Linked DNA regions of Homo sapiens. The protein of the gene in region 1 interacts with the protein of each later gene in a biochemical or structural test. Each region holds a gene or a part of one and is shown in the gene's direction. Other genes may lie near its edges.

Region 1 (3,816 bases):
CATGTAAAATTTTGACTGACAAAAGGAACCTACTACTTTAAACAATGGTTTTATTAGAACATGGTCAGCAAATGTATCATGCCTCTGCAAATTTTAGTGATGTTTAGAGATGCCTCTAAGTTTGCAGTTGGAGGTTTTTGTGCTTTTAGAAATGTGATGTGATCCTTAGGGTACCTGTTTTGTCTGTTGTGTTGAGAACCAAACCCATTGAACAACTTAAAAAATTGGGAAATAATTGTCAGCTATTTTGTATACATACACACAAAATATATACATTATATAATATGTATATTATGTATTATATAATATATATAAAATGTTTTGTATATTTTTTACATATCTGTTAAAAAATGTACTTTGTTTTTTTGTTTGTTTGTTTTGAGATGGAGTCTCTCTCTGTCACCCATGCTGGAGTACAGTGGCGCGATCTCAGCCCGCTGCAACCTCTGCCTCCTGGGTTCATGCGACTCTCGTGCCTCAGCCTCCCAAGTAATTGAGATTACAGTTGGGTGCCACCATGTCCGGCTAATTTTTGTATTTTTAGTACAGATGGGGTTTCACCATGTTGGCCAGGGTGGTCTCGAGCTCCTGACCTCAAGTGATCCACCCACCTTGGCCTCCCAAAGTGCTGAGATTACAAGCATGAGCCACTGCACCTAGCCAAGAAGTGTACTTTTTGTTTAATGATTACCGAAAGAAGTTCTCCTTTAGAAGCATTGACTTATACAAATTCCCACATTCACCTCAGTTAATATCTTCCTTTAGGATTCTTGGATAATAGAAATTCTTCCTAAAACATACTCAGAGATGCAGCTCATTATTAAATTAAGGTAACCACATTCTGTATTGTTGCTAGCTTTTCATGTAAACATTATTCACACTTTAAAGGATTAGGTGTTTAAATATTGATGGTCATCTTTGTCTGGTGTTAGGTGCCAGACACCTGGCTGCTGAATTTGTTTTTTCCCTCACCAAAGTTGTCATTTGGAACGCCAGCTGGGAGGACTTTGAAGGAAAAGAAAATATATGACAATAGGCAGTATTGACACATTGTTTAAAATCTTTTTCACAATAAAACAAAACACCCAAGTTGTCATATTGTTAAAGTTGGAAATCTATAGGTTTTTCTTTTTTTTTTTTTTTTTCTTTTTTTGATTCTAGATTTCATGGCCAGAACACAAATTCACGTTTCTTGTCCTAGGACAGGGAATTGGTGACAAAATGGATTATACTATTTTAATAACAGTGGAAACTTTCAAACTACATGTGTTTACACCAAATTCTTGGCTTCTCAAAGCAACATGAATTAAAGCACAGTATCAAGGTGATGCCCTATGACAATGTTTCAACACACACTTGAAATTTTAAGAGAAATTTCAGTTCTTCACTCAGGAAATGTGCTGTATTCTCTAATGTACTTTCATGCTGCAGCATGGAGCCTCTTTAAACAGCTTTGGGATAATTATAGCAGCACAAGAAGTTTATCTGCAAAATATTTCAATCATCTTGGTACAATAGATGACTTTTACATCATGTATATTAGCCTTATGTGATATAAAATGTATTACTTAGAAAATATACTTAAAGGAATTATTTCTATTATAAATGGTATTCATGATTGACTACTTAATTAATGCACATTAGATTTCTCCTAATATAAAATGAAATGATGCAGTTTAGTTCATTTCAGTCTAGATGCCCGTACTAACAAGAATACAGTTAGATAAGTTCATTGTATCTCAATGAAGAATCATTGAACTTGAAACCCAAGTCCCAAATGAATCTGCAGGAATGAGCAGTGCTCTGCGGGGGCAAACAGCCCCAGAGGTCCCAGGGTTCTTCCTAGGTAATGAGAGTATAGCTGTGATCAAGGAAATGTGAACTTCTCTTTTGGGAAGATCTGCGATAATTAGCTTTATGGAAGCGAAAATGGTTTAGAGTGGTGTTGAGCAATTGTTAAGAGTTGAAATAGACACACACATGCATGTGCTTTTGGGAAACATGATGTGCCAACGTATTAATGTGCCTGAGGGCTCCTTGTGGATAGGTCAGTGTCCACATTTCAGCACTCAGGGCATGACTGTACACAACCTAAGACTATATATATATTTTTTCATTTTCAAATGTACAAATACCCATAGAGGTGATGTGCCTGGATAAGTCATTTAACCATAGCTTAGTGAAATAAATGTGATGGCCCTAAAAAGTAGAATTTTCACTTTCATTACAGCCATGCCTTTATTATGCAGTCTCCATTTCTGTGTGATATTTGGTAATATCACATGTCAAATACATCAGGACTTTGTTTATTTTGGCTAACTCTAACTATACAATTGCTGAACATAGCTTTCTGAAATAGAAATTATAAGAGAAACCCAGTATGCCTACAGCATTAGTAGCCTAAATCCTAGATTCTAGAATCCAATAAATTTATAGTAGTTCTTAAGAAGTTTCCTTTAAAGCAACAAATAGATTATTAAGGCAAATTTAGATAATAACCCAAGTTAGCAATAAAACCATGTGACATTATAGATTATGTCCAGATACTAACTGCTTTGACCATAATATCCCAATGACAATAAAAAATGATCCTTGGTTTAAAAATTATTAAATGGTACTTATTTTTATGTATAACAAGTGTCATGATCCCAGTGACTGGAGTTGATTTTCAAGGTGGATAGCCATAGAGTTAGGTAAAATTATTTTGAATTGGCAAACTAAAGATAACAATTTTGAAAATTGCTCAAAATAATAATCTACTTAAATTTTACTTTTGTAACTTCTGAAACAGTACTCCATTATCCAGAAATCACAGGCTAGAGAGCCAATAATTTTGTAGTAATGAACCTTAACTAAACATGAAAAAGGCAATCCTGAAGTTTTATGTACATAGATAGCAGTTCATTTTTTAAATGTTCGAGTTGCCATATATTATGTATGTGTGTGTGTGTGTGTATATATATATATATATATATATATATATATATATATATACAGCTATGTGTATAATATGTAAAATTCTCCCAAAATGTATGAATATAAAACTGAATGTATTCATTCATGTAATTATAACTAGCATTCTAAAATTTTTAATTACTCCCATTTCTTTGACATTCTGAAACTTTTTTTAGATTGTTTTAAAACGCTCTGGTTCCACCTTGAAGCTGATAATCTTTCTGAAAAATATATGAGAAACTCAGAAAGTAGTCATTATTATAATAAATTTAATTTTCTTAGGGAAAAAGGGCAGGGTTCTGGATGGAAACCCCTTTGGAAATTCTTATTTAAACTTTTGAATGAATCTTTAATATGATTCAGGCTGAGATTATGATACCTGCCCTTGTCTTATTTCAAGAGGTTTGCTGTGAGAATTCATGTAATAACATCTGTAATGTATTTGGAATTTTTGGGAGAAATTCATTCTTTTAAATAATGGGATTATTGTATATAGTACAAATGAATACTCACAAAATTTAAGAATACATTTGACTAATAATTGAGCATCTTGTCAGTTTTTATGCAAGCATATATTGTATACCTGAGGAAGATGACAGTTCTATAATTTTTTTAAGGTAAGGTTATTTTTAAATTGCATTTTTGTTCTAACGTTTTGCAATTTATATTCTTTTTAAAATATTTCCCATAATTCATCATGCTAGCTTCTGTGTTCTTGGAATAGTTTTTGAAAAATGCAGAGATTCGAACATGAGTCCTTAATATACTAAACAGTGAAAGAATGATGATATCTCATTTCTAAAGTAAGCATGGTTCACACCACTTTGGCAATACACTGCAGTACTTTTTAAAAAATATTCT
Region 2 (4,750 bases), on another chromosome or scaffold:
TTTAAAATATAGGTTCTATATATATGCGTCTTTGTGCACTTATACACCTATGTTGTTTGCACATGTTTATATGTGGAATCTATATGGCATATTAAAGTATATTTCAAAATAATACACAAATGATCAACAATTCAGTCATAGCGTAGTGTCTGATAATTGCATTTCCTGCAGTCTATGTTCTTAGGATCATAATCTTTAACGGTTTGGGAAAGCCAACACATAAAATGACAATTTTGAGTTGTGCAGCCTATTTTGGGACATTTAAAGATGTTAAACAGATTTCCCTTTGGACTTACTCATTCACTTCTTGGCTAAGATCATTTACTATAAGAGAGTCTGCCAGACAAGGAGGGAATACAGGGACCTAGGGCCAAGGGGAGTAGAAGGGAAACCTGGGAAAACACACCAAGTTTGGGTTAGGGGATCACCATTCCATCTGGAAGCTAACTGGATAATAGGGTATCCATTCGTCCTCACCCTTGAACCTCCTCCGTGTTCAGAAGGAAACTAATAAATCACTTTATCCCTCTCTCCATTGTTAGTGGACTCTTTTACTCCTTTGCAGTGAAAGGCTGCTTTCTTGGGGTAAAGATGTCAACCCTAGCAGAGGATTTCAGTGATCTTTCTGGCGGCGAAGCTTAGACCGTGTGTTTAAACATCATTTTATGAAGAAGTACACTGTGAGTGGACTGAGGGCCATGCCCTGCACCTTTCTTCCCAGTCCCTGGGCCACCAACTACCCAACCACCTCGGTTGTTCCAGAAGTGAAGGCTCACCATGGTGTGGCTTATGTAATATACATATGTGCTATGATCCCTGTGGATAATTAAGGCTAGGTCCCTTTATATGCCTAGGACAAGTTAGCAACCCTTTCAAGGTCGTGTTTTCGAAAGGATGACAATTACTTTCCCATTGGACTTTTGGTACATTTACATCAAACACTGCCAGCTACAGTGTCTCCTAATACTGACCCCTGGGCTAATTAGCAGCTTAGTGAGGTTGTTTCAATTTTTCAGCAACCAATTAAGTAGTTGCTCTAGACAGAACTGACAACACAATGTGAATTTTAAAAACCGGGATCTGCTGGTTGAGGGGAGAAAGCCAAACCCAGTAAGGCAAGTGGGGGCAGGGCGAGGCTGTGAGTGGCTCTGTTTCTGCTAGCAGAATACTGGGTCTTAAATTCAGATTAAATCACAGTTTACCTGACGAGTACCCCGCCCCCCCTTCCCATTAGTAAAATAATAGCAATAATTTAAAAAGAGCCGAGCATCTGGGTTAGTGCAAGGGGAAGCGAGACCTTTAACCATGGCCACCCCACTTGCTCTTTGCGAGGCACCTGTTAGATGCGCTCGTGTGCCCTGACCCCTATACCGAGAGACAGCTCCACACCTGCATTTACCCTTCAGCCTAAATGGATTCCCATCAAGCCTTTCTCACTTCACTGTCGGATCCACAGAGGCACCGAACCGCAGCCACTCTGCAGAAGCACTCTCAGCCACTCTGTCCCCTAAGGGAGATTTAAAAGTGGTCGCCCCCACTCGCCCTCCCTCAGCCAGCATCTCCATCTAGGGAAGGAATTTCAGTTGTCTCCAGGAGGCAAAAAGCGAAAAGGTGAGGGATGCACCGAGAGAAGAGAAGATACCTACTCACTCCCCTCCCCACTCACCCACGCGTCCGCTCCCGGCTCCCCCTCCGCCTGCTTGGGTCTGGCGGTCAGGTGAGGTTACCTGGGCTCCCCGAGAAGCCCCGAGGGGCGCTGCAGTCCTTCCTTTCGAAATCGCCCCGCTCCCCGCCGGGCCTCCAGGACTCTTGCCCCTCTCCCCCCGCGCGCGTCCCCGGCCCCTCGGGCTCCGACGCGCAGCGACAGCCGCACGGCGCGCTCTGCTCCCCTCCGCCGACCTGGCGTGACGCAGGCGGAGACTACTTAAGGGCGGATTAGAGGCGGCGGCCGCGGATCCCCGAGCCCAGCATTCGGCTCCGCGCGCTCGGCCCTGGCCTCGCAGGCTGCCGCGCCGGAGCGCCAGGTGCCCGCTGAAGTAGCAGGAACAGAGCCGGTGTTCGGACCCTCCCCTGGCCCCCAACCTGCGGCGGAGAGCGGCGCTGAGACTTCTCCTGGGCGGGCGAGCGCTGGAGGACCTGCAGGCTGCCACCCCGCCCCGCCCCTCGTCCCGGCGTCCGCGGGATCCAGACCCGAACCCCGGACGGCGCCCGAGGTTCGTGCCCTCTCTCTAGACCGCGCCAACTGCCCCATCGGTCGGGACGCGCTTGGATTTCTTTCCCCATTTCTTCTCTTTTAAGTACAATAAAAGGAAAGGGGGATTCGAGGATTTTTTAAAAAATTGCTTCTTTAATTGGGAGGCAATTCACTCCCATTCTGGAAGTGCGGCCCGGGGAGGGGCCAGGAGCGGGAACGTGCCCGGTGCTGCCCAGTCTTTGTCTGCTGCCTCCGGATGCACAGCGATGGGGGAATGGACCATCTTGGAGAGGCTGCTAGAAGCCGCGGTGCAGCAGCACTCCACTATGATCGGGAGGTAAGGGCGCCAAGCCGGCGGTCAGGGGGCCCCGTCGGGCGGCCCCCGGGAGTCCCTTCTCACACCTGGACTGAGTCTCCCGCTCCAATCCCCAGTCCGTCCTCTGCCTCCTCCCCATCGTCCTAGGTCAAGGCTCCGGTGTTCCCGGCGATGAGGGATTACCCGACGCCCCGCGATGCCCCCCTCCTCTAGCTACTCCTAACCAGCTGCCCATCCCTTCCCCATCAAGCACCACTGGGGCTTCACTCTTCCCACATCAGAAAAGGAGCCGCTGGCTCAGTCTTGGTCCCTCCACTCTCCAGAGTCAGAGCCAATCTCCATTTGGTTCCCTAAATAGAATCTACAAAGAAGGCAGGATTGCATTTGGACAGAAAAGGGCAAATGGGGAGATGGATTTGCTCTTCAGAGCAGATGCCTCTTTTCTCAACAAATAATTACTAAACCAAACTTATTTGGCGGTGTAAACTTACCGAGCCTACACACCCAATTGCCATTTTTGGGTCTGTATCTATATCTATGTCTCTATCTACCTAGCTTTATATATATATGAGTTCAATATATATGAATATATATTCATAGCCATCTGCTTATATAAAGCATTAAATTTAATATTCATGTTGAGAATAAACTAAATATACACATGGAGTAGTTATTTACACACCCTGTGTGTAGACCTCGAAGCATGCACCATCTGTAAAGGTATTCTGTGTGCATTTGCCATATCCAGAGTGAAGGTGTGTTTTGTGTTTCTATACATTCTATATAGAGAGATGAAATCTATCTGTTGCAAGTAGACTATGTCCAGTGTATGGAGATGTGTGTACCTGGGATCTCTATAATATGAAATATTCCCAGCCTACCAGCACTCAGCAGAAAAGGAAGAGACAAAAAGCTTTCCCAGATTCCTAGTTCAGTACCAGCCCGGGATGGACAGCTCCCCAGTCAAAAGACTGGTAAACACCAGCAAAGGGAAGGGAGGAGCAGGGGTTTCCTGTCAGTGACGCAGCCCGTGAGAACCTCTCTCCCTCCCTCTTCCTCCGTTCAGGATCCTGTTGACTGTGGTGGTGATCTTCCGGATCCTCATTGTGGCCATTGTGGGGGAGACGGTGTACGATGATGAGCAGACCATGTTTGTGTGCAACACCCTGCAGCCCGGCTGTAACCAGGCCTGCTATGACCGCGCCTTCCCCATCTCCCACATACGTTACTGGGTCTTCCAGATCATAATGGTGTGTACCCCCAGTCTTTGCTTCATCACCTACTCTGTGCACCAGTCCGCCAAGCAGCGAGAACGCCGCTACTCTACAGTCTTCCTAGCCCTGGACAGAGACCCCCCTGAGTCCATAGGAGGTCCTGGAGGAACTGGGGGTGGGGGCAGTGGTGGGGGCAAACGAGAAGATAAGAAGTTGCAAAATGCTATTGTGAATGGGGTGCTGCAGAACACAGAGAACACCAGTAAGGAGACAGAGCCAGATTGTTTAGAGGTTAAGGAGCTGACTCCACACCCATCAGGTCTACGCACTGCATCAAAATCCAAGCTCAGAAGGCAGGAAGGCATCTCCCGCTTCTACATTATCCAAGTGGTGTTCCGAAATGCCCTGGAAATTGGGTTCCTGGTTGGCCAATATTTTCTCTATGGCTTTAGTGTCCCAGGGTTGTATGAGTGTAACCGCTACCCCTGCATCAAGGAGGTGGAATGTTATGTGTCCCGGCCAACTGAGAAGACTGTCTTTCTAGTGTTCATGTTTGCTGTAAGTGGCATCTGTGTTGTGCTCAACCTGGCTGAACTCAACCACCTGGGATGGCGCAAGATCAAGCTGGCTGTGCGAGGGGCTCAGGCCAAGAGAAAGTCAATCTATGAGATTCGTAACAAGGACCTGCCAAGGGTCAGTGTTCCCAATTTTGGCAGGACTCAGTCCAGTGACTCTGCCTATGTGTGAGAGGGCAGGTTTCATGAAGGTCTGGGGGATGGCAAGGAGCCCCAAGGCAGATGACTGCTCAGACGTGGCTGTATCCACCCTCATTTATGTGACCCTCACCATTAAGATGTAGGATAAGACTGGATAAAAGAAGATTTTGCACCAATGGGAAAGGAGGAAAAGTGGACCCATTTTCACATATCACCTAATTGGTTCTACAGAGACGATTGGGTAGAGTGATGAAATGGATCAATTAGACTTCTTTGGTCCCTTTCTGTTTATGGCCTAGCCTGATCCTGA
Region 3 (4,195 bases), on another chromosome or scaffold:
CATGTTTTCTAAGGACTATAGGATAAGGCTGCACCTGAATGAATATTTAATACTGGGTACTATGTGGTGAGAGTGGCCTTGCTTACAAACACAAATGGCGTCAGAATACAGCTGCCAAGGGAATTGCATAATGCTACTGGGAGCACTTGTTAGCCTTGTAGGAACTTAAGACCGTGTGAAACTCTTTCTGCTTGGGAGAAAAAAGTGCCAATCTTAGCTAGCTTCTTCATAGCAGAGAATATGGTTTATCTTTCTGCAATCCACTCTTTGACACTGACGCTCATCAAAAATATGCCTTTTCACCTGAATTAATTGGTATGTTCAGATTTGGAACAAAAAAGTAGAAAGTTTTACTTACTCCTGCTGCTCTCATGACCTGTTTCTCAATGTTGGTTGCATTCATTCATATCCCACTCATTGGTATCTGTCCCTCTTGTAATTAATCCAGACTTTATGTCCTTTTTTTTTTGAATAATATACTTTTCAGGGGCCCAGTAGTTACCATTCTACCACCATAGAAAGCTGCAGAATCACCTGAGATAAAGTTGGTATGCAGGTTTTTTTTTTTTTTTTTTTTTGAGATGGAGTCTCACTCTGTGGCCCAGGCTGGAGTGCAGTGGCCTAATTTCAGCTCACTGCAACCTCCACCTCCCTGGTTCAAGTGATTCTCTTGCCTTAGCCTCCCAAGTAGCTGGGACTACAGGCATGTGCCACCATGCCCAGCTAATTTTTGTACTTTTTTTAGAGATGGGGTTTCACTGTTGGCCAGGCTGATCTCGAACTCCTGACCTCATGATCCACCCAGCTCGGCCTCCCAAAGTTCTGGGATTACAAGCGTGAGCCACCGCGCCCGGCCGGTATCCAAGTTTATGTCCGTTGAGGATGCTTTGATTTGAACAAAGCAAAATATCAGTTATTTGGTAAAGTCCAAACAGACAAATAAAATCAGAAGTTCTTTTGCTTCTTTTTCAGTTCCCTTCTTCTCAACATCTGAGTGTCCAGGAAGCTCACAAAGAAAAAAGGAGCAAGACTCCTTGGATTTTTTTTTCTTCCAATACTTTAACCTGCAGTAAACAGGATTTGAAATGAGTGAATCTAATTAACATGTTGGTGTGTTTGATCCAGGTTCCAAAGAAACTGTAGTTACAGTTCAGTCAAAGGAGACAAAATAACAGCCACTTGGAGTCTGGTGTATCTATTAAACTCAGGAATATGTTGTGGTTGAAATGTATTCAATGAGATAGGGAAAGCAACAGTTTCCCTCTCTATACAGGAATTCTCTCCAGGGGATCTTTATCCCGATTCTAATTCCTTTCTCCTAACAGCCCTAAGTTCTCCACTATCATCATCTCTCTTCATTTGTCATATTTGAAACTTTTAAAGGTCAAAGGTCCATTTTAGGTTTTTGCATCAGTCCACTGGTTTCCCTCTGACCCTTTCTCTCCAGGAAACAGCCACTTGGAGTTTTCCTAGGAGTGTAGGCCATAACACAGCTTGTTTCTATAACGTTCATAAGTATCTTCAGGACTTTCTTATTAGATCATTGACTTTCTTGCAGTCCCTCCATAGGAGCAGCCACTGGCAGCCTGACTGATGAAAATACAAACAACTATCCCAGCAGCAATATTTATTTTCTGCCCGTCCACTCTTCCTTCCCTCCTTTGAGCTTTCTTGTTTTTCCTCTGAGAGGCAACCCATTCTAGTTAGCAATTATAGTAATGATATGGCTCCCATGAGTGGAGGAACACCAGGGCTCTTGTCTCACGTTGAATTAGATTAAACAATACGGACACACGTGGAGTGGTTTTAAGGAGCAGAGAGTTTAATAGGCAAGAAAGAAAAGAAAAGGCAGAAGGTTCGCTCTTACAGAGACAGAGGGATGGGGGCTCCACAGCCGAAAGAGGAAACCCCAAGTGTGGTGCGTACCAGGCAGGTATATGTAGAGGCTGGAGGAGGGGGTGTCTGATTTGCATAGAGCTTAGGGGATTGGTTTGACCAGGCTTTCATTCAGGTAGCCCTCGGAAAAAAACTGGCCTTCCCACCCTAGCCTTTTAATATGCAAATGCAGGGCACCATGATGTTCTACACACATGGGGATATGTGGGGCGGCCATATTCCCAAATACATGTGGGGCAAGGGCAAGAGGACAAAGGTGGGAATCGCCATGTTGAGTGGACCCAGTTTCTAATGGCTTGCATATGCATACTAAAGGTTGCCGGCTTGGCTCTAAGAGCTGGGACTTTTCTGTTAGACAAGAAACACTTTTGGAGGTGTTTTAAAAAGAAATGAAAACTTTCCAAGGACTCCTTTTTTCTCTATCTGCCTAAAATAATTTCTTAATAACTTCTATCACAGTAACTTCATAATTCTGAGATCCCTGTTGGTGGTAAATCTAGTATGTTGAAGCCTGTAAGTGTATGGCCCTTGGACAACATGGTCACCCAGTTGATACTAGTCCTTCTTGCTCAGATGAGTCATCTTCCCATTTAGAGGTAGCCACTGCATAAGGCAATGCACGTAGAGACTTACTGACTTTCTAGGCCTTTCATCACTCTCAGTGGTCCAGTCAAATATGTATTTGGTCCATAGTGGGCACCACTGTTACTTGAAGAGCTAAGGCAAAACAGTAACACAATGCAGGCTGGAATCCCAGCTGCAGCTGTTGTGTTCATTTGTTCCTTCAGGCTCTTGGCATGAAGTGGAGAGGTATGCCTGGGATGGACATGGTTGGATGTATTATGAGTTGAGCTCCCTGTTGATATCCTTTTTTAGGGATTGTGGTAAGGAATGGGGGTGTTGTACCTGATCAAGTGGGTGGCAGTGTGGTGGTTGCAGGCATAAAATGGCCTTTGTGCATAGCAAAACATTTCAAAACTAGGAGCCAGCTGCCCAGGAGAGTTGAATACAAGAGTTGAAGACTTGTGGGGAATGAGACAATGCGCACCTTCTCCTGCCTCAATAGTCATGCTTGTCTCTCGACAAACATTATTGTTCAATGAAAGAAGCTAGACATGAAAGATTACATACTGTTTGACTACATTTAGGTATAAAGTTAAAAAATAGTCAAAACGGCACTGTATTGTTTAGAAATGCGTATTTAGGTGGTAAAACTATAGAGTAAGGCAAAAGTGTATTCTCAAAAATGTCAGCTAGAGGATGTTGCTGGGGGAAGTTTAGGGGTGCTGATTAGGAAATGAAACAAGAGAGGCAATGCTCCACTTCTAGGCTTTGTGCAGGTCCAGAGTGTGTGTTTATAGGAATTTATTAATCTTATATTTTTCTTTATGTAATTGTATGTGTGTTATATTTCACAATAAAAGAGGCTAGAAAGTAGGGAAAAACTGGTTTGTGAAAGTCTAAGCTCTTATACTCTTAACAACTTTCTAAAAATTATTTAGAATTAAGCTTATGTTGTCACAAATTTTTCTTATATCCCATTCCTTCTCATTTGTTCTACTTTTTTGTTTTTTTACAATTTTTTTTGGTGGTATAACACACATAACATAAATTTTACCATTTTAACCATTGGTAAATAATCTTTAGTAATTTCTTTCAAATAAATTGTGACATAAACTTTTGAGTCTTTGCATGTCTAAAAGTGTACTTTTCATTTTCACTTGAATGATAAAATGGCTAAATGTGGTATTCCAAATAATTTTTTCCTTGGAACCTCTTTAGCACTCAGTGTTGTGGATAAGAATTCCAATGCCAATCTAATTTTCATTCCTTTGTGGAACATCTTTTTTATCCCCCCTTTGGGAGCTTTTAAGATTTTTTTCTTTCTTGTTGGCATTCTAAAATTTTTCATTGTTTTAATTCAGTTTTTCAGTGATTGATGTGGATCTTTAAAATTAATTTTTTTTTACAGTTTTTCATTGAAGAAAAGGATTTTTAGATTTTTTAGATTTTCTCATTGGCTCTTTAAATCTGAAGAGTAGTTTGTTTCTTCATCTGCTAAAAATGTTGTGTAATGTCTTAAAATACATGTTTTCTTCTCTTTACTCTTGTTGCAAATATTAAAATAGTTGCTGGAACTTCTAGATATATCTTAATATTTCTTAACTCTGTTTGCATTTTTTGTATTTTTGTTTGCTAATATTTAGCTATTTTTCTTTTTATAATCCTTTGAGACTTTTTATTTATTTGAAATAAGTTTTTTGAGAACAATATAATTATACAGTGCAAATATAAAAAT
Region 4 (4,195 bases), on another chromosome or scaffold:
GGAGAGTTTTATCTTAAGACTATGACACACTGTTTATGTTTTTGCTTTAGTGTTTTTGTTTTTGTTCTTTTCTTTTTTTTTAGGCAGCTTTGCCAGCGACTTTCAACCAGATGGATGGCCCTCCGGGGACACAGTGCTGCTGACTGTGTGCGCATTTATTTGACAGTAGCCAGGAAGTGGCCATTCTTTGGTGCCAAGTTGTTTCTTGCAAAAGTAAGAAAGAATGGGAGAGAGATGCATAATGAAAACCTTTGTGTACATAGTTGACCAGATTTACCCCAGACTTAGTATCCTTGGCTTTTGTAAAAAATGAAGAAATATCCAATAATGTAAAGAAAACAATGAAGAGACACTAGAGAAAGGGCAGAAAAGCTTCTCTATCTTTTCCTCTCTGCCCAACTTTTCCCACCCTAAATCATTTCTTGGACTCATTAGGTGAATCATGAGTCCTAAACCACAGCTGAACTCTGCATTCTTCTGTTCATTCATTCATCCATGCACATGTTTACTCTGTCACTCATTTGCTCATTAGTATTTACTAAGTTCTGTCTGCTAAACATTGAGCTAAGCTCTAGGGATACATAACCTATTGTTTCAGATGGATTGTACATGAACTTCCAGGACTATTTTACTTTGTAACAACAGGCCTATAAACAAACCACTGTATGGCAAATATCACTATGAGTCACATGAACAGACTGCTGCAGGAACACTGAGGAAGGAGACCCACCCTGCCCAGGGATGGCCAGCCCTTTCCCCAAGGGAAAAATTATGCCTTTTGATTCCTTTTCTTTCTGTTGAAACATGTCTCTTTGTACTTTCTCAGGCTCTTAAGATACATCTTGCCTTGTGTTATATTTTTCTGTGTGTTTGTTTTATACTCACTATTAAATTGCATGCTCCTTGAAACTATAAACTCACTGATCCTAAAATCTTCCTCTTGTACCTACTGTAGTGCTTTGCACGTAATTAATAATTATCACTTAATAAATATTGCTGAATAGCTGTGCAACTTTGGGCAAGTCAGGTTACCTCTCTGGACCTCACTTTTCCTCATCTGTTAATGAAATACTTAGATTAGAAAAGTAAAATCTAAGGTATCTTCTAACTCTGATTCTATGAGTGACTATATTATTGATAGGTGAGAATTAATTTTTTTCTAGTGGAACTGAAAGCTGTATACTAATTAAGAAAAAGATGATAAAGTTAGTATTCTTAAACATCTATAAAATTAATGTACTTACGGGAAGTTGAACGTTACTTTTTAAAATTACAAGGAATAGATTTGAACTGTAGAGCAGCATGGATTTTAATTCTAACTTCAGCATTGGAAGTAATATTAAATACCCTTTTCTGTTCTGATAAAATGTGCTTGCTGGCACAAAATATTATTAAATAATAATATTGCTTTTCAAATTACGTGACAAGCATCTTTTTTGCTCACTTTTCTTTCTTTATAACAAGCGACACCTCCTTTGTTGCTTCATGGCATCCTGTTTTCTGTGTGTGGTAAAATACACATAATGAAATTTACCCTTTAACCTTTTTTTTTTTTTTTTTTTTTGAGACGGAGTCTCACTCTGTCACCCAGACTGGAGTGCAGTGGTGCAATCTTGACTCACTGCAACCTCCGCCTCCCAGGTTCAAGCGATTCTCACGCTTCAGCCTTCCAAGTAGCTGGGATTACAGGCGCACACCACCACGCTCAGCTAATTTTTATATTTTTGGTAGAGACAGGGTTTCACCATTTTGGCCAGACTAGTCTCGAACTCCTGATCTGAAGTGATCCACCCGCCTCGGCCTCCCAAAGTGCTGGGATTACAGGCGTGAGCCACCGCATCTGGCCCATTGTAACCATTTTTAAGTGTATAGTTCTGTGGCATTAAGTACATTCTCATTGTTGTGTTGCTGTCACCACCATTCATCTAAACACTTTTTTATTTTCCCAAACTGAAACTGTACCTAACTCCCCAGTCCTCCCTCCTCCTCCCAGCCCTGGCAACTGCCACTCTACTTTCTGTCTCTATGCATTTGACTACTTTAGGAACTTCAGGTAAGAGAAATCATATAATATTTGTGCTTTTGTTATTGGCTTATTTCACTTAGTGTAATGTCTTCAAGGTTCATCCATGTTGTAACATGTGTCAAAATTTCCTTCCCTTTTGAGGCAGAATAACATTCCACTGTAGGTATATATATACCACATTTTGTTTATCCATTCACCTGTCAGTGGACACTAGAGTTGAAGGGCATCCTTTTGAATTGAATTCTCCCTATCCTTTGCAAATCAGCCCTCAGTAGACAGTTTCTAACTCAGGGTTTTGTATATATGAGATGCTAGCAAGTTTTATTATATAAAATAACCCAACATTCATTCCAGTTTTATATCTATAGTCTTGACATTGTTTTGTAAAATTTAAGGGAAATAGTTAAGATTTTTTTTAGGATTTCATTTGTTAATGGAACCAAACAAGCATCATTAATTGCTCAAAAACATTCATGGGTTTCAGTTGGGTTCTAGTGGTAGGAGATTCTTTTTATTAATATAATTTCATAGCTTTTTTTTTCTATGAGAACCAGGAGTAGCTTTTAGCTTTTTTTTTTTTTTTTTTTAGATGAAGTCTCACTCTGTCACACAGGCTGGAGTGCAGTGGCACTATCTCAGCTCACTGCAGCCTGCGCCTCCCAGGTTCCAGCTGTTCTCCTGTCTCAGCCTCCCAAGTAGATCGGATTACAGGCGTGCACCACCATGCCCAGCTGATTTTTGTGTCTTTGGCAGAGATGGGGTTTCGTCATGTTGCACAGGCTGGTCTCGAACTCCTGGCCTCAGATGATCCACCCACCTCGGCTTCCCAAGGTGCTAGGATTACAGGCGAGAGCCACAACACCCAGTCAATTTCGTAGCTTTTACAATAAAAAATTCGGTGGAAATTTTCATATTTCTCATTACTATTGATTACACAGTTTCATATTTTCTTGTTATTGTGTTTTTATTACACATTGAATATCAGATTTAATAAACTTTCAGGAAAGGTGTGCAATTATAATAATAATCTTTTACCTTGTAATAGCACTACACAACTTATCAAGCATATCAGTATATTTTGCTTCATTAGGATTTTGGTCATCATAGAAACCCTAAAAACTTGTTGACTATTAACGTCTTAACGCAGAAGAAAAGTAAAATATAAACATTATTGTTCCTATGCTAAAGATGAGGAAATTGAGCCTCAAACAGATTCAGTAGTTTATCCAAATGCATACATTAATATATGGCAGGTTTGGGTCTCAAAGCTAGGTCTCCTAATATCGAATTCACTCTTAGCTCCGGTATACCACCCTGCCTCTTTCCTAGGCGAGATTTTTAATAAATTTTTGTTGTTATTATTGTTGTTTAATGGCAAATGTTACATGACATTTAGACTGAAAAATATTCCTGTAATTTTGCTTAGTATTTATAATATAGTGTATTTTCACCTCTTCATAGCCCATAACTCCATCATCACTTGGAAGTACTTTCTTGTGGCTGGCTGTACATGAGGATGGTTTAAGCCTCTTAGAATACAACTCCATGGTAAGTTTAAACGCTCAAGTTTTGCATTAAGTCAACTGTTTCCATTGCTCAGTGTACCGTAAACAGAAAGTAATGATATCTTAATCTGATTTTTCTCTTACCCAGGAAACATTCTTCCTAATACTATGTCATGAACAGTCATTTTACAAATACAGCTATGATTATAATTTAACCTTTTAAAACAAGATAAGACAGGTCGTTTATTGTGTATGAGAAAAATCTTGATACCATGACTAAATTGTGATCATGGTTACATTCATGAAATGATTATTTTTTAAAAGTGTTAAGAAGATTGTTTCCTGTGTAAAATAAAAATCTGTAAGAAATCATTAAGGTGGGAACTTTAATTACCAAAGTTTAAGTTCACTTTCACTAAGGCTTCTTTAACAATTTCTATAATTTCCTATAATGTCATTTATATAGCATCTTAGCACTTTTCACATAGTTTAAATTCAAACTATGATATCTATATGTGTTCATTTATTTACCCGAAATTTACATTTTTTATCATATTTCATGTGTCTAATTATTTAATACAATTTTATTCTCTTTTTTGTTTAATCTGGTGAGCAGGAATTACTAAATTCACCTGGCAGGTCTAATCCTGTGGCTATAATCAGA
Region 5 (4,195 bases), on another chromosome or scaffold:
TGGTCAGGGATTCTGACCTTTTGTAATACCCACTAAGACCTCCTAAGCCACCACAAATAAACATATTATCTGAGTAGAATAGTGCACTTGCTCTGCAAATGCACTTTTGAGGCAAATCTCTTGACTCCCTTCTAGCTAGACTGCAGTCTCAAAGCCCTTCTTGTGTAGAGCCTGCGAGCTGTCAGTGGATAGCATCAAATCAAGCGGATGGATTCTTGAAAGCTAAATGTCATCATTTGACAGAGCTACTATGAGGAAAAATATTTTTATTTTTAAAAAAGTTTTATTGATCGATTGATTTGAGATGGGGTCTTGCTCTGTCACCTAGGCTGGAGTGCAGTGGCTTGATCATGGCTCACTGCAGCCTCGAACTCCCGGGCTCAATGGATCCTCCAGGTTCAGTCGATCCTCCGGGCTCAATTGATTCTTGTGCCTCAGCCTCCTGAGTAGATGGTACTACAGGCACGCACCACCACACCTGGCTACTTTTTTGTATTTTTTGTAGAGACAGAGTTTTGTCATGTTGCCCAGGCTGATGTCAAACCCCTGGGCTCGGCCAAGTGCAGTGGCTCACGCCTGTAATCCCAGCACTTTGGGAGGCCGAGGCGGGTGGATCACAAGATCAGGAGATTGAGACCATCCTGGCTAACACGGTGAAACCCCGTCTCTACTAAAAAAAACAAAAAAACAAAAAAACAAAAAATTAGCCAGGCGTGGTGGCAGGTGCCTGTAGTCCCAGCTACTCAGGAGGCTGAGGCAGAATGGCATGAACCCGGGAGGCGGAGCTTGCAGTGAGCCGAGATCGCATCACTGTACTCCAGCCTGGGCGACAGAGTGAGACTCTGTCTCAAAAAAATAAATAAACAAACAAGCAAACAAACAAACCCTTGGGCTCAAGTGATCTGCCCACCTCAACCTCCCAAAGTACTGGGATTACAGATGTGAGCCACTGTGCCTGGCTGAGGAATAACTTTTTTTTTTTTGAGACAGAGTTTCGCTCTTGTTGCCCAGGCTGGAGTGCAATGGCACAATCTTGGTTCACTGGAACCTCTGCCTCCTGGGTTCAAGCGATTCTCCTGCCTCAGCCTCCTGAGTAGCTGAGATTACGGGCACCTCCCACCATGCCCAGCTAATTTTTGTGTTTTAATAGAGATGAGGTTTCACCAAGTTGGTCATGCTGGTCTCAAACTCCTGACCTCAGGTGATCCACCCACCTCAGGCTCCCAAAGTGCTGGGATTACACGCGTGAACCACCACACCCGGCCGGTAATAAGATTTTTAAAGGAGGAAATAACATTAGGCAATACTTACTGGTGAAGAGCTCAGTACTTCCGCTTGCTTGCTAGGAGATCTCATGAGCTAAAGCAGATACGAAAGTGCCTGCCAGAGATAGGGAGTAGAAGGTGTGAAGGCCAGGACGTGAGAGGCCAGGCCTGTTGTAATTAGAAGCAATTCAGTGTGGCTGGAGGACAAGTGAGAGATCCTCGGGTGGCAGAGGCCAGATCACCAAGGTTCTTGTAAGCCAGCAACACTTGGGCTTTAGCAGGAGGAAGATGGGGACCACTGCAGAGTGTTAAGCAAGGGAGTGATGACATCAGCTTTGCACATCAGGAAAATCCCTCTGTTTGCCACGTGGATGACGGGGAGGGAGAGGCGGGCAGATGAGCTGGGCACCAGAGAGAGCTGCAGGTGAGAGGTAATGGTGGCCCGAGCTAGGGGTGACACACTGAGGTGTGTGGGAGATGTACTGAATGGAGAATCGGGGACATGGAGAGGAGAGGAGGAGGGATCAGGGATGATGCTCCTTTTCTGGCTTGGTCAGCATGGCCCAGGCAACTGGTAGAAGATACAAGATAGGTAAGTGTCTTTGACATTGTTCATTTACTCTGTGTTTATAGCTAGGATGTAAGTTTTACTAATCCCATTTCAGATGGTAATTGGAGATCTAGAGAGGTTGAGCAGTTATTCCAGGGTGCCTCAGGTAGTTTTAGGAGCATTGGGATTTGAACTTGGGTCTTTTTCACTTCAGTATCATTAGCCACTCATTGTGCAGTTCTTCCTCGGTGGAAAGAGGGTCAGTTCTGTGGCTGTGGGTCTGAGACCTGGGGGTTGGGTGAGGTGGAACATGGAGTTGGGTGAACATTGGGTAAGGAGGAGGAGCAGAAAGTCTTAGCAGAAATGTTTGCTGTGTCTGCATTGTTTTTCCCAAACCTAGCGCAGGACAGTGAGACAGCGGCTCTATGCCTTTTCCTCAGCCCGTCCTAGACACTGTTTCTGCCAGGAGGACAGTTTTGCTGGGAGTTGGCCTCAACCTGCTCCTCCTATCTGAATGGTGGGTGAAGGACAGACAAGCCTGGTGCTAAGCTCATCCAGAGGCCCCCAGATAGGGAAATAGCATGGATTCTCTTCTGCCCGCTGGGGACTTCTTGGGCACCTGGCCCCCAGGCATGGCTGTCCTGACTCATCTGGGTGCTATGGCTTACGGGCCTCTAGATATCCTTTGGAAAAACGTGTGAGGCATAAATTGATATGAACATTCTTCAAGGCAGTTTGGCAATACATTTTTTTTTAATTCAACATTTCCACCTCTTGCAGTGTACTCCAAGAATATACTTGGATATATTTCTGTTGTTTTTGATGGCAAAATTAAAATCTTTTGGTTGAGAAAATTTTGGTTTATCCATACAGTGTGTTCTCTGCAGTTTTTCTGTATAGTCACTAAAAATCACATTCTAGGGGAATATTTAATGACATGGAAAATACTCATGATTTATTAAGTGAAAAAGTCTGTGTGTGTGCATATATGTTTATATACATATATCTGTAGCTATCTGTGTACATGGCATATCTCAGTATGATGAGATTGTGACTTTTCTTTACTTCTTTGTCCTTTTATTTTGAGATAGGGTCTCACTCTGTCACCCAGGCTGGAGTACAGTGGTATAATCAGCTCACTGCAGCCTTGATCTCCTGGGCTCAAGCGATTCTCTGTGTACCACCACACCTGGCTAATTTTTGTATTTTTTGCAGAGTCAGGATCTTGCCATGTTTCCCAGGCTGGTCTCAAATTTCTGGCCTCAAGTGATCTACCCACCTTGGCCTCCCAAAGTGCTAGGATTACAGGTGTGACCTACTGCACCCAGCTGCCTTTGTACTTTTCTTTTCTTTTTTTTTTTTGAGATTGAGTTTCACTCTTGTTGCCCAGGCTGGAGTGCAATGGCACAATCTTGGCTCACCACAACCTCTGCCTTCTGGGTTCAAGCGATTCTCCTGCCTCAGCCTCCCAAGTGGCTGGGATTACAGGCATGCGCCACCACGCCCAGGTAATTTTGTATTTTTAGTAGAGATGGGGTTTTTCCATGTTGGTCAGGCTGGTTTTGAACTCCCAACCTCAGGTGATCCGCCCTGACTCAGTCTCCTGAAGTGCTGGGGTTTACAGGTGTGAGACACCGCGCCCAGCCTTCTTTGTGCTTTTCTATATTAACAAATTTTTGAGGCCGGGCATGGTGGTTCATACCTGTAATCCCAGCAAGTCTGGGCGTGGTAGCTCAAGCCTGTAATCCTAGCACTTTGGGAGGCCAAGGTGGGTGGATCACCTGAGATCAGGAGTTCAAGACCAGCATGATCAACATGGTGAAACCCCATCTCTATTAAAAATACAAAAATTAGCCAGGCCTGGTGGCAGGCACCTGTAATCCCAGCTACTCGGGAGGCTGAGGCACAAGAATCACTTGAACCCAGGAGGCGGAGGTTGCAGTGAGCCAAGATCATGCCACTGCACTCCAGCATGGGCGACGGAGCAAGTCTCAAAAAAAAAAGCAACTTTTTGATAGTGAGCATTTATAACTGTTATAAAAAGAAACCTTTATTTTTAAAAAGTTAAATAAATTATGGCACATCAATGTGTGTATGAGTATGTATGTATGCACTCTTTAAGGAAACAAAGCCTTTTACTATTTCTGTGCCTTGGAAAGAAGAATAAGAAGTTTCTGCATCCATGAAGTGGAGGTAACATTCATGTCTAATGTTTGGGGATTGCAGGAAAAAAAAATGGAAGTAACTATGATGCCTACTTCATGTTTGTTTTTTTTTTCTTTCTTTTTGGTGAGGATTTAATGGGTTTGTGTGCTAAGAACAGTTTGTATTAAGTACAGACGGTTTTCAACTTACAGAGTTTCAACTTACTATTTTTTGA
Region 6 (4,195 bases), on another chromosome or scaffold:
TCCCACCTTTGTCAGGAGGATCAACCAGCATAATAGTTACATTACATATACATGAAGGGATTATTTTTGGGCAGCTGTTATCCCCTGTGGATTTTGTGAGGATGGAAGAATGCCAGAATGCTGTCCCTAGCTGAGTAGGTAAAAAAGGAAGCAGGGAGATCCCAAATGGCTAGAGTCAGAAATCAAAAAGCAGGAGCTTTTTCTTGGGTGTCTAGCTTGTCCACTGTCCCTGAGAGGCGTGGATAGGTTGCCCATATGTTCTCCCTGTTCTTCATTGTGGGCTCTGCTGTCAGGGAGGAAGTAGAAAAGGCAAGATAGGACTGACAAGTCAGGCAAAGGCCTGGCCCCAGCTTGGGGAACCTAATGGAGGGGAAACCCTGACCCTGTGGGGCAGAGATCCAGAGGGTAGACACTGGGAGAGCTGGACTTGGGAAAAGTAAAACTGATGACCCAGAGTACTAGCCTCCCTTTCCCTAGGGAACCTGTCCCTTAGAAAAGGTTCAGCTGTCTACCAGGTAGGGAGAGACACAGTAGAGGTGAGTGTGGATAGGTCAACTTACAGTGTAACCACAGGGGAGAGAGGGAAACCTGGGTTGGAATGCTGGCATTTGCTCCCCTGCCCTTCCTTGAGTGTGGTATCATCACTGAAGAGTTCCGCGTGGGCAGGGCAGAACTGCTGCCCTGCTTCTGGGTCATTCTCTGAGTCCCAGTGTTTACTATTGATGTTTCTGACTCAAGCCCTTCTAGCTTTGCCCTTTCAGGGGCAGGCATACCTCAAAACCGTAGACTGGTGTGAAGGTGTGGGTTGCCCCTCCACACCTGTGGGTGTTTCTCGTAAGGTGGAACGAGACTTGGAAAAGAAAAAGACACAGAGACAAACTATAGAGAAAGAAATAAGGAGACCCGGGGAACCAGCGTTCAGCACATGGAGGATCCCGCCAGCCTCTGAGTTCCCTTAGTATTTATTGATCATTCGTGGGTGTTTCTCTGAGAGGGGGATGTGTCAGGGTCACAAGACAATTGTGGGGAGAGGGTCAGTAGACAAACACGTGAACAAAGGTCTTTGCATCATAGACAAGGTAAAGAATCAAGTGCTGTGCTTTTAGATATGCATACACATAAACATCTCAATGCTTTACAAAGCAATATTGCTGCCCGCATGTCCCACCTCCAGCCTTAAGGCGGTTTTTCCCTATCTCAGTAGATGGAACGTACAATGTCTTGGTTTTATACCGAGACATTCCATTGCCCAGGGACGGGCAGGAGACAGATGCCTTTCTCTTGTCTCAACTGCAAGAGGCATGCCTTCCTCTTATACTAATCCTCCTCAGCACAGACCCTTTACAGGTGTTGGGCTGGGGGACAGTCAGGTCTTTCCCTTCCCACGAGGCCATATTTCAGACTATCACATGGGGAGAAACCTTGGACAATACCTGGCTTTCCTAGGCAGAGGTCCCTGCGGCCTTCCGCAGTGTTTTTGTCCCTGGGTACTTGAGATTAGGGAGTGGTGATGACTCTTAAGGAGCATGCTGCCTTCAAGCATTTGTTTAACAAAGCACATCTTGCACAACCCTTAATCCATTTAACCCTGAGTTTGACACAGCACATGTTTCAGAGAGCAAGGGGTTGGGGGTAAGGCCATAGATTAACAGCATCCCAAGGCAGAAGAATTTTTCTTAGTACAGAACAAAATGGAGTCTCCTATGTCTACTTCTTTCTACACAGACACAGTAACAATCTGATCTCTCTTGCTTTTCCCCACACTGGTGAGTCACTCCTCCTTTCCTCTCCCTCTACTCCCAGGAGTGAATTGTTCCCTCCAAACTAGAAACTGGTGACTGGCACTTCCTAGTTCTACCTGGAACTAGGAAACGAGTGGCAGTGGAATTTCAGTGTCCTTTAGTCTTTGCCTTCTGGCTCCAGATCACTTTTTTTTTTTTTGAGACGGAGTCTCATTCTGTTACCCAGGCTGGAATGCAGTAGCATGATCTTGGCTCACTGCAACCTCCACCTCCCGGCTTCAAGCGATTCTCCTGCCTTAGCCTCCCCAGCAGCTGGGACTACAGGCACGCGCCACCACGCCCGGCTAATTTTTTGTATTATTTATTTATTTATTTGTTTTTGAGACAGAGTCTCTCTCTGTCGCCAGGCTGGAGTACAGTGGCACGATCTCGGCTCACTGCAAACTCCACCTCCCGGGTTCATGCCATTCTCCTGCCTCAGCCTCCTGAGTAGCTGGGACTACAGGCGCCCGCCACCATGCCTGGCTAATTTTTTCTATTTTTAGTTGAGACGAGGTTTCACTGTGTTAGCCAGGATGGTCTTGATCTCCTGACCTCATGATCTGCCCGCCACGGCCTCCAAAAGTGCTGGGATTACAGGCGTGAGCCACCGCGCCCGGCCCCTAATTTTTTGTATTTTTAGTAGAGACGGGTTTTCACCATGTTGGCCAGGCTGGTCTCGAACTCCTGACTTCAAGTAATCCTCTTGCCTAGGCTTTCCAAAGTGCTGGGATTACAGGCGTGAACCCCTGCACCTGGCCACTCCAGACCACTTTTACCTCACCATGTTGCTCTTCAGTTCCTTTGTGATCATGTCTTGTGGAGTCTCCAGCCCAGTTCCGATTCAAGATAGAGCTACTGTGATTTTTTTTAAAAAAATTTAATTAGAATAGGTTAATTGACATGGTTTTATAATTAAAATGATATCAAAGGGGTGGGGTATCTCATTCCCATGTTGCTCCTGTTCACCCCAAACCCCAATAGTTTCTAATGTCTCTTCAGTGTTTCATTTTACAGATACAAGTATATATAAATAATACTTGTTTTTTCTCCCCTTTCTGACACAAAAAGAGGCATACTACATATATTCTACATCTTGCTTATATATATATATCATGGAGTTTTGTTGTTGTTGTTGTTGTTTTTGAAACAGGGTCTCACTCTGTTGCCCAGGCTGGAGTACAATGGCATGATCATAGCTCACTGCAGCCTTTTTTTTTTTTTTTGAGACAAAGTCTTGCTGTGTTGCCCAGGGAGGAGTCCAGTGGCGTGATCTTGTCTCACTGCAGACTCTGCCTCCCAGGTTCAAGTGATTCTCCTGCCTCAGCCTCCCGAGTAGCTGGGACACAAGCGTGCACCACCATTCTTGGCTAATTTTTGTGTGTGTGTATATATATATATATATATATTTTTTTTTTTGAGATGGAGTCTGGCTCTGTCACCCAGGCTGGAGTGCACTGGAGCAATCTCGGCTCACTGCAAGCTCCGCCTCGCGGGTTCACGCCATTCTCCTGCCTCAGCCTCCCGAGTAGCTGGGACTACAGGGGCCCGCCACCACTCCGGCTGATTTTTTGTATTTTTTTTAGTAGAGACGGGGTTTCACCGTGTTAGCCAGGATGGTCTCGATCTGCTGACCTCGTGATCTGCCTGCCTCGGCCTCCCAAAATGCTGGGATTACAGGCATGAGCCACTGTGCCCAGCCTTTTGTACATATTTTTTTAATTTAATTTTTTTTTTTTGAGATGGAGTCTTGCTCTGTTACCCAGGCTGGAGTGCAGTGGCGTGATCTCGGCTCACTGCAAGCTCTGCCTCCCGGGTTCACGCCATTCTCCTGCCTCAGCCTCCCAAGTAGCTGGGACTACAGGCACCCGCCACCATTCCCTGCTAATTTTTTTTTTTTTTTGTATTTTTAGTAGAGATGGGATTTCACCATGTTAGCCAGGATGGTCTTGATCTCCTGGCCTTGTGATCTGCCCCCATTGGCCTCCCAAAGTGCTGGGATTACAGGTGTGAGCTGCCCGGCTAATTTTTGTATTTTTAGTAGAGATAGGGTTTCACCATGTTGGCCAAGCTGGTCTTGAATTCCTGACTTCAAGTGATCCGCCTGCCTTGGCCTCCCAAAGTGCTGGGATTACAGGCATGAGCCACCGTGCCTGGCCTCACTGCAGCCTTGACCTCCTGGGTTCAAGCAATCCTCCAGTCTTAGCCTCCTGAATAGCTGAGGCTATAGGCAAGTGTGAGTGGTGAGCCATACCTGGCTAATTTTTTATTTTTTTAGTACAGACAGGGTCTCATCTGTTGTACAGGCTGGTCTTGAATTCTTGGCTTTAAGGGATCCTTTTGCCTTGGCCTTTCAAAATGCTGAATGACAGGTATGAGTCACTACACCTGGCCCATATTGGTTTCTAGGGATT
Region 7 (4,195 bases), on another chromosome or scaffold:
CCATCGATCCATCCATTGATCTATCCATCTATCCATCCATCCATCCATCCATCCATCCATCTAATCATCCATCCAATCATCCATCCATCCATCCATCCATCCATCCATCCATCCAGTCATCCATCCATTCATCCATTTAATCATCCATCCATCGATCAATCGGTCCATCCATCCAGCTATCCATCCATCCATCCATCCATCTAATCATTCATCCATCAATCCATCCATCCATCCATCCATCCATCCATCCATCCATCCATCTATCCATCCATCCAATCATCCATCCATCCATCGATCAATCAGTCCATCCATCCATCTAATCATCCATCTAATCATCCATCCATCCATCCATCCATCCATCCAGTCATCCATCCATTCATCCATTTAATCATCCATCCATCCATCGATCAATTGGTCCATCCATCCATCTATCCATCCATCCATCCATCCATCTAATCACCCATCCATCCATCCATCCATCCAATCATCTATCCATCCATCCATCTAATCATCTATCCATCCATCCATCCATCCATCCATCCAATCATCCATCCATCCATCCATCCATCCCTCCATCTAATCATCCATCCCTCCATCCATCCCTCCATATCCATCCATCCATCCATCCATCCATCCATCCAACCATTCAGCAGTGAACCTCTACTGTGGTGTGTTGGAAAGAAGGGAAGTGTGAGCCTGGTCTTGCTCACAGGGAACTCAAAACAGAGCATTAGGAGGAGACTCAGGATCTTACAGCCTTGAGGGAGGTGACCCAGGCTAGAGGAAGTCAGGAGCTCAAAGACTAGCTGGGGAGCCAGGGACACACACATGGATTATAATTAGTGGCTCTGCAAGGCTGCAAGTGATCAAGGGCAGACTGCGGGGTAAAGGAAGGAGAGAAGACTCTGGGCTTTGTTAGGTGGAAGGGCTTTCTGCAGGAGGCCAGGCCAGAGAAGCCAGCCTGATGAGGCTTTGAGAGGACCTGAAACTGGAGATGGGATTTAATGGCCAGAGAGAAGGAGGCAGCAGGCTTGTCATGTAGGCAAATACACGCAAGCTTGTAGAGTAATTACCAGGCAGAGAGCTGAGGAGAGCACCCTGTTATGTTCCCTTAGCCTTGGCCTCGCTGATCGAGAAGTGTCCCAAAGACAACAAGGACTGCAGCTCCTACGGCAGCTTCAGCGACGCAGTGCTGGAACTCTTCAAGCTCACCATAGGCCTGGGTGACCTGAACATCCAGCAGAACTCCAAGTATCCCATTCTCTTTCTGTTCCTGCTCATCACCTATGTCATCCTCACCTTTGTTCTCCTCCTCAACATGCTCATTGCTCTGATGGGCGAGACTGTGGAGAACGTCTCCAAGGAGAGCGAACGCATCTGGCGCCTGCAGGTGAGCCTAGGTGGAGACCCCAGCGTGGGGGCCTCCACGGGACTCAGTTCAGCACGTGGTCATTGACTACTGTCAGCACCAGTGGGTCTGAGGTGGGGCCTGAGAATCTGCACAAGCTCCTCAGTGTGTGGCCAGGTTTGAGGAGGCCTTAGCCTAGGTTCTTTGAGTGTAGGGTCTAGGGAGTGTGGCTGTGCAACAGAATGTGTAGAAAAACTCAGGCTCATGGGGGTGCTCTGCTCAGGGTTGACAGTGTGATGTGTGGATGTTGAAGTTTGACCTTAGGTTGCATTAAGAGGAGTACAGCGTCTAGGACAGTGGAGGTGACAGTTCTGCTCTATTCTATCCTGGCCTGAACACTTCTTACATGCTGAGGAAACCAATGCATAGGATGGGTTCAGAGGTGGTAACCAGGTTTGGGAGAGGACTGGAGACTGCCTCTTAAGAAATGGTGGTTGGCGGCCGGGCATGGTGGCTCACCCCTGTAATCTTAGCACTTTGGAAGGCCGAAGCGGGTGGATCACCTGAGGTCAAGAGTTCGAGCCCAGCTTGGCCAACATGGTGAAACCTCATCGCTACTAAAAATACAAAAGCTAGCCAGGTGTGTTAGTACGCACCTGTAATCCCAGCTACTTGGGAGGCTGAGGCAGGAGGATCGCTTGAACCCAGGAGGTGGAGGTTGCAGCGAGTTGAGATTGTGTCATGGCACTGCAGCCTGGGTGACAGAGCAAAAACTCTGTCTCAAAAATAGAAAAAAAAAAAAAAAAAGAAATGCTCATTGGAAAAAGGTGAGCGTGCCTTTGGATATCTGCAGAACAACCTATGAAAGAGGGAGCAGATCCCTTCTGTGGTCCTGGAAGGCAGATGTACATGGGGTTACTACAGGGAGAAAAGCTTTGATGTCACACATGGAAGTTTCTCTTTATTAAGGCCCTCCTTTTTTTTTTTTTTTTTTTTTTGAGACAGGGTCTTGCTCTGTTGCCCAGGCTGGAGTGCAGTGGCACGATTATCAGCTCACTGCAAACTCTGCCTCCCGGGCTCAAGTGATTCTCCCACCTCAGCCTCCCAAGTAGCTGGGATTACAGGCACGCGCCACCACACCTGGGTCATTTTTGTATTTTTTGTAGAGATGGGGTTTCACCATGTTGCCTAGGCTGGCCGCTTACTCCTGAGCTCAAAGCGATTCGCCCGCCTCAGCCTCCCAAAGTGCTGGGATTACAGGTGTGAGCCACTGCGCCTGTCCAAGGCCCTCTTAATTGGTTTGTTGATGCTATTCAAGAGAGACTGGAAAAATTATGGCCAGGAAACTGCAGAGAGATTCCAAGCCTGGGAGGGGGTGGGACAAATGATGTTTGAACGGTCCTCTGCTATGGGATTCCAGGACCCCAGCACTTTCAGATAGGAAGCTCCTGGGCTTTCAGAAATATTATTTATATCATGGAGTTTCGCTCTGTCACCCAGGCTGGAGTGCAATGGTGGGATCTCGGCTCACTGCAAACTCCAACCTCCAGGTTCAAGTGATTCTCCTGCCTCAGCCTCCCGAGTAGCTGGGATTATAGGCGCCTGACATACGCCTAGCTAATTTTTGTGTTTTTAGTAGAGACCGGCTTTTGCCATGTTGGCCAGGCTGCTCTCGAACTCCTGATCTCAGGTGATCCACCCGCCTTGGCCTCCCAAAGTGCTGGGATTACAGGCAAGAGCCAGTGCGCTCAGCCCTAATTTTTGTGTTTTTAGTAGAAACAGGGTTTCGCCATGTTGGCCAGGCTGGTCTCAAACTCCTGACCTCAGGTGATCCACGCACCTTGGCCTCCCAAAGTGCTGGGATTATAGGTGTGAGCCACCGTGCCCGGCCTGCTTTTTTGTCTTTGAATTCTGTAGATTAGCCAAACCCTTGCGATCTATGCATTAAGCATGAGGTGAGGGTGGAGTGGGCTCCCCGACAGTGTGTGTGCCCTTGTGTGTGCTTGTGAGTGTGGATGCCTACTCCTTAGACTTGCTTATGTCCCCAGAGAGCCAGGACCATCTTGGAGTTTGAGAAAATGTTACCAGAATGGCTGAGGAGCAGATTCCGGATGGGAGAGCTGTGCAAAGTGGCCGAGGATGATTTCCGACTGTGTTTGCGGTAACAAAGGGAGAAGGGCCCTGGGGTGGTGGTCTTTGGGGTGGGTAGAGAGGGGCAGGATGGTGACAGGATGTTAGAGAAACAGTGCCGCCACTTGCTAACCATAACCACAGCTACTGTCTCTTCCAGTGGCCTCCTTGGAAGAAGGAATTTGCTTATGGGGTTGCAGGCCCTGAGATGGGGGTTCCTGAGCTTCAGAAGAGAAAGAGAAGGAGACTGCCAACAGCGGCTCCCCTCTCTGCATTTTTCTTTCTTCTTTTATTTTTTTTTGAGACGGAATTTTGCTCTTGTTGCCCGGGCTGGAGTGCAATGGCGCAATCTTGGCTCATTGCAACCTCCGCCTCCCGGGTTCAAGTGATTCTCCTGCCTCAGCCTCCCGAGTAGCTGGGACTACAGGCATGCGCCACCACCCCTGGCTAATTTTGTATTTTTAGTAGAGGCAGAGTTTCACCATGTTGGTCAAGCTGGTCTCAAACTCCTGACCTCAGGTGATCCACCCACCTTGGCCTCCCAAAGTGCTGGGATTACAGGCATGAGCCACCGCACCCAGCCCCTCTCTCTGCTTTTTTGGAGGTGCCTCCATGGTCTCTCTGTGTTCGCTATCTGGTTTAGGGAAGATCTGCCTGCTGGGTACTCCTTTTCCTGCTGTTTACCCTGTGTGAGTTCCTGTGACCCCGGGTGACTTG

Evidence for each region.
Region 2: the proteins of PALS2 (region 1) and GJD2 interact in a test that uses a peptide from one of them, tested with the Homo sapiens proteins (one large-scale study listed by IntAct).
Region 3: the proteins of PALS2 (region 1) and ATRNL1 interact in a test that uses a peptide from one of them, tested with the Homo sapiens proteins (one large-scale study listed by IntAct).
Region 4: the proteins of PALS2 (region 1) and PLEKHH2 interact in a test that uses a peptide from one of them, tested with the Homo sapiens proteins (one large-scale study listed by IntAct).
Region 5: the proteins of PALS2 (region 1) and TECPR2 interact in a test that uses a peptide from one of them, tested with the Homo sapiens proteins (one large-scale study listed by IntAct).
Region 6: the proteins of PALS2 (region 1) and F11R interact in a test that uses a peptide from one of them, tested with the Homo sapiens proteins (one large-scale study listed by IntAct).
Region 7: the proteins of PALS2 (region 1) and TRPV3 interact in a test that uses a peptide from one of them, tested with the Homo sapiens proteins (one large-scale study listed by IntAct).

The regions. Positions count from the first base shown.
Region 1 is NC_000007.14:24,688,452-24,692,267, forward strand, and holds part of PALS2 (protein PALS2), read left to right. Parts: 3' UTR 1-3,816.
Region 2 is NC_000015.10:34,752,199-34,756,948, reverse strand, and holds the start of GJD2 (gap junction delta-2 protein), read left to right. Parts: upstream 1-1,950; 5' UTR 1,951-2,460; coding exon 2,461-2,531; intron 2,532-3,576; coding exon 3,577-4,471; 3' UTR 4,472-4,750. UniProt on the Homo sapiens protein: One gap junction consists of a cluster of closely packed pairs of transmembrane channels, the connexons, through which materials of low MW diffuse from one cell to a neighboring cell.
Region 3 is NC_000010.11:115,302,665-115,306,859, forward strand, and holds part of ATRNL1 (attractin-like protein 1 isoform 1 precursor), read left to right. Parts: intron 1-4,195. UniProt on the Homo sapiens protein: May play a role in melanocortin signaling pathways that regulate energy homeostasis.
Region 4 is NC_000002.12:43,758,817-43,763,011, forward strand, and holds part of PLEKHH2 (pleckstrin homology domain-containing family H member 2), read left to right. Parts: intron 1-83; coding exon 84-213; intron 214-3,487; coding exon 3,488-3,574; intron 3,575-4,195. UniProt on the Homo sapiens protein: In the kidney glomerulus may play a role in linking podocyte foot processes to the glomerular basement membrane. May be involved in stabilization of F-actin by attenuating its depolymerization. Can recruit TGFB1I1 from focal adhesions to podocyte lamellipodia.
Region 5 is NC_000014.9:102,369,106-102,373,300, forward strand, and holds part of TECPR2 (tectonin beta-propeller repeat-containing protein 2), read left to right. Parts: intron 1-638; exon of another isoform or gene 639-670; intron 671-1,311; exon of another isoform or gene 1,312-1,380; intron 1,381-4,195. UniProt on the Homo sapiens protein: Probably plays a role as positive regulator of autophagy.
Region 6 is NC_000001.11:161,014,403-161,018,597, reverse strand, and holds part of F11R (junctional adhesion molecule A isoform 1 precursor), read left to right. Parts: intron 1-4,195. UniProt on the Homo sapiens protein: Seems to play a role in epithelial tight junction formation. Appears early in primordial forms of cell junctions and recruits PARD3.
Region 7 is NC_000017.11:3,515,771-3,519,965, reverse strand, and holds part of TRPV3 (transient receptor potential cation channel subfamily V member 3), read left to right. Parts: intron 1-1,115; coding exon 1,116-1,390; intron 1,391-3,396; coding exon 3,397-3,509; intron 3,510-4,195. UniProt on the Homo sapiens protein: Non-selective calcium permeant cation channel. It is activated by innocuous (warm) temperatures and shows an increased response at noxious temperatures greater than 39 degrees Celsius. Activation exhibits an outward rectification.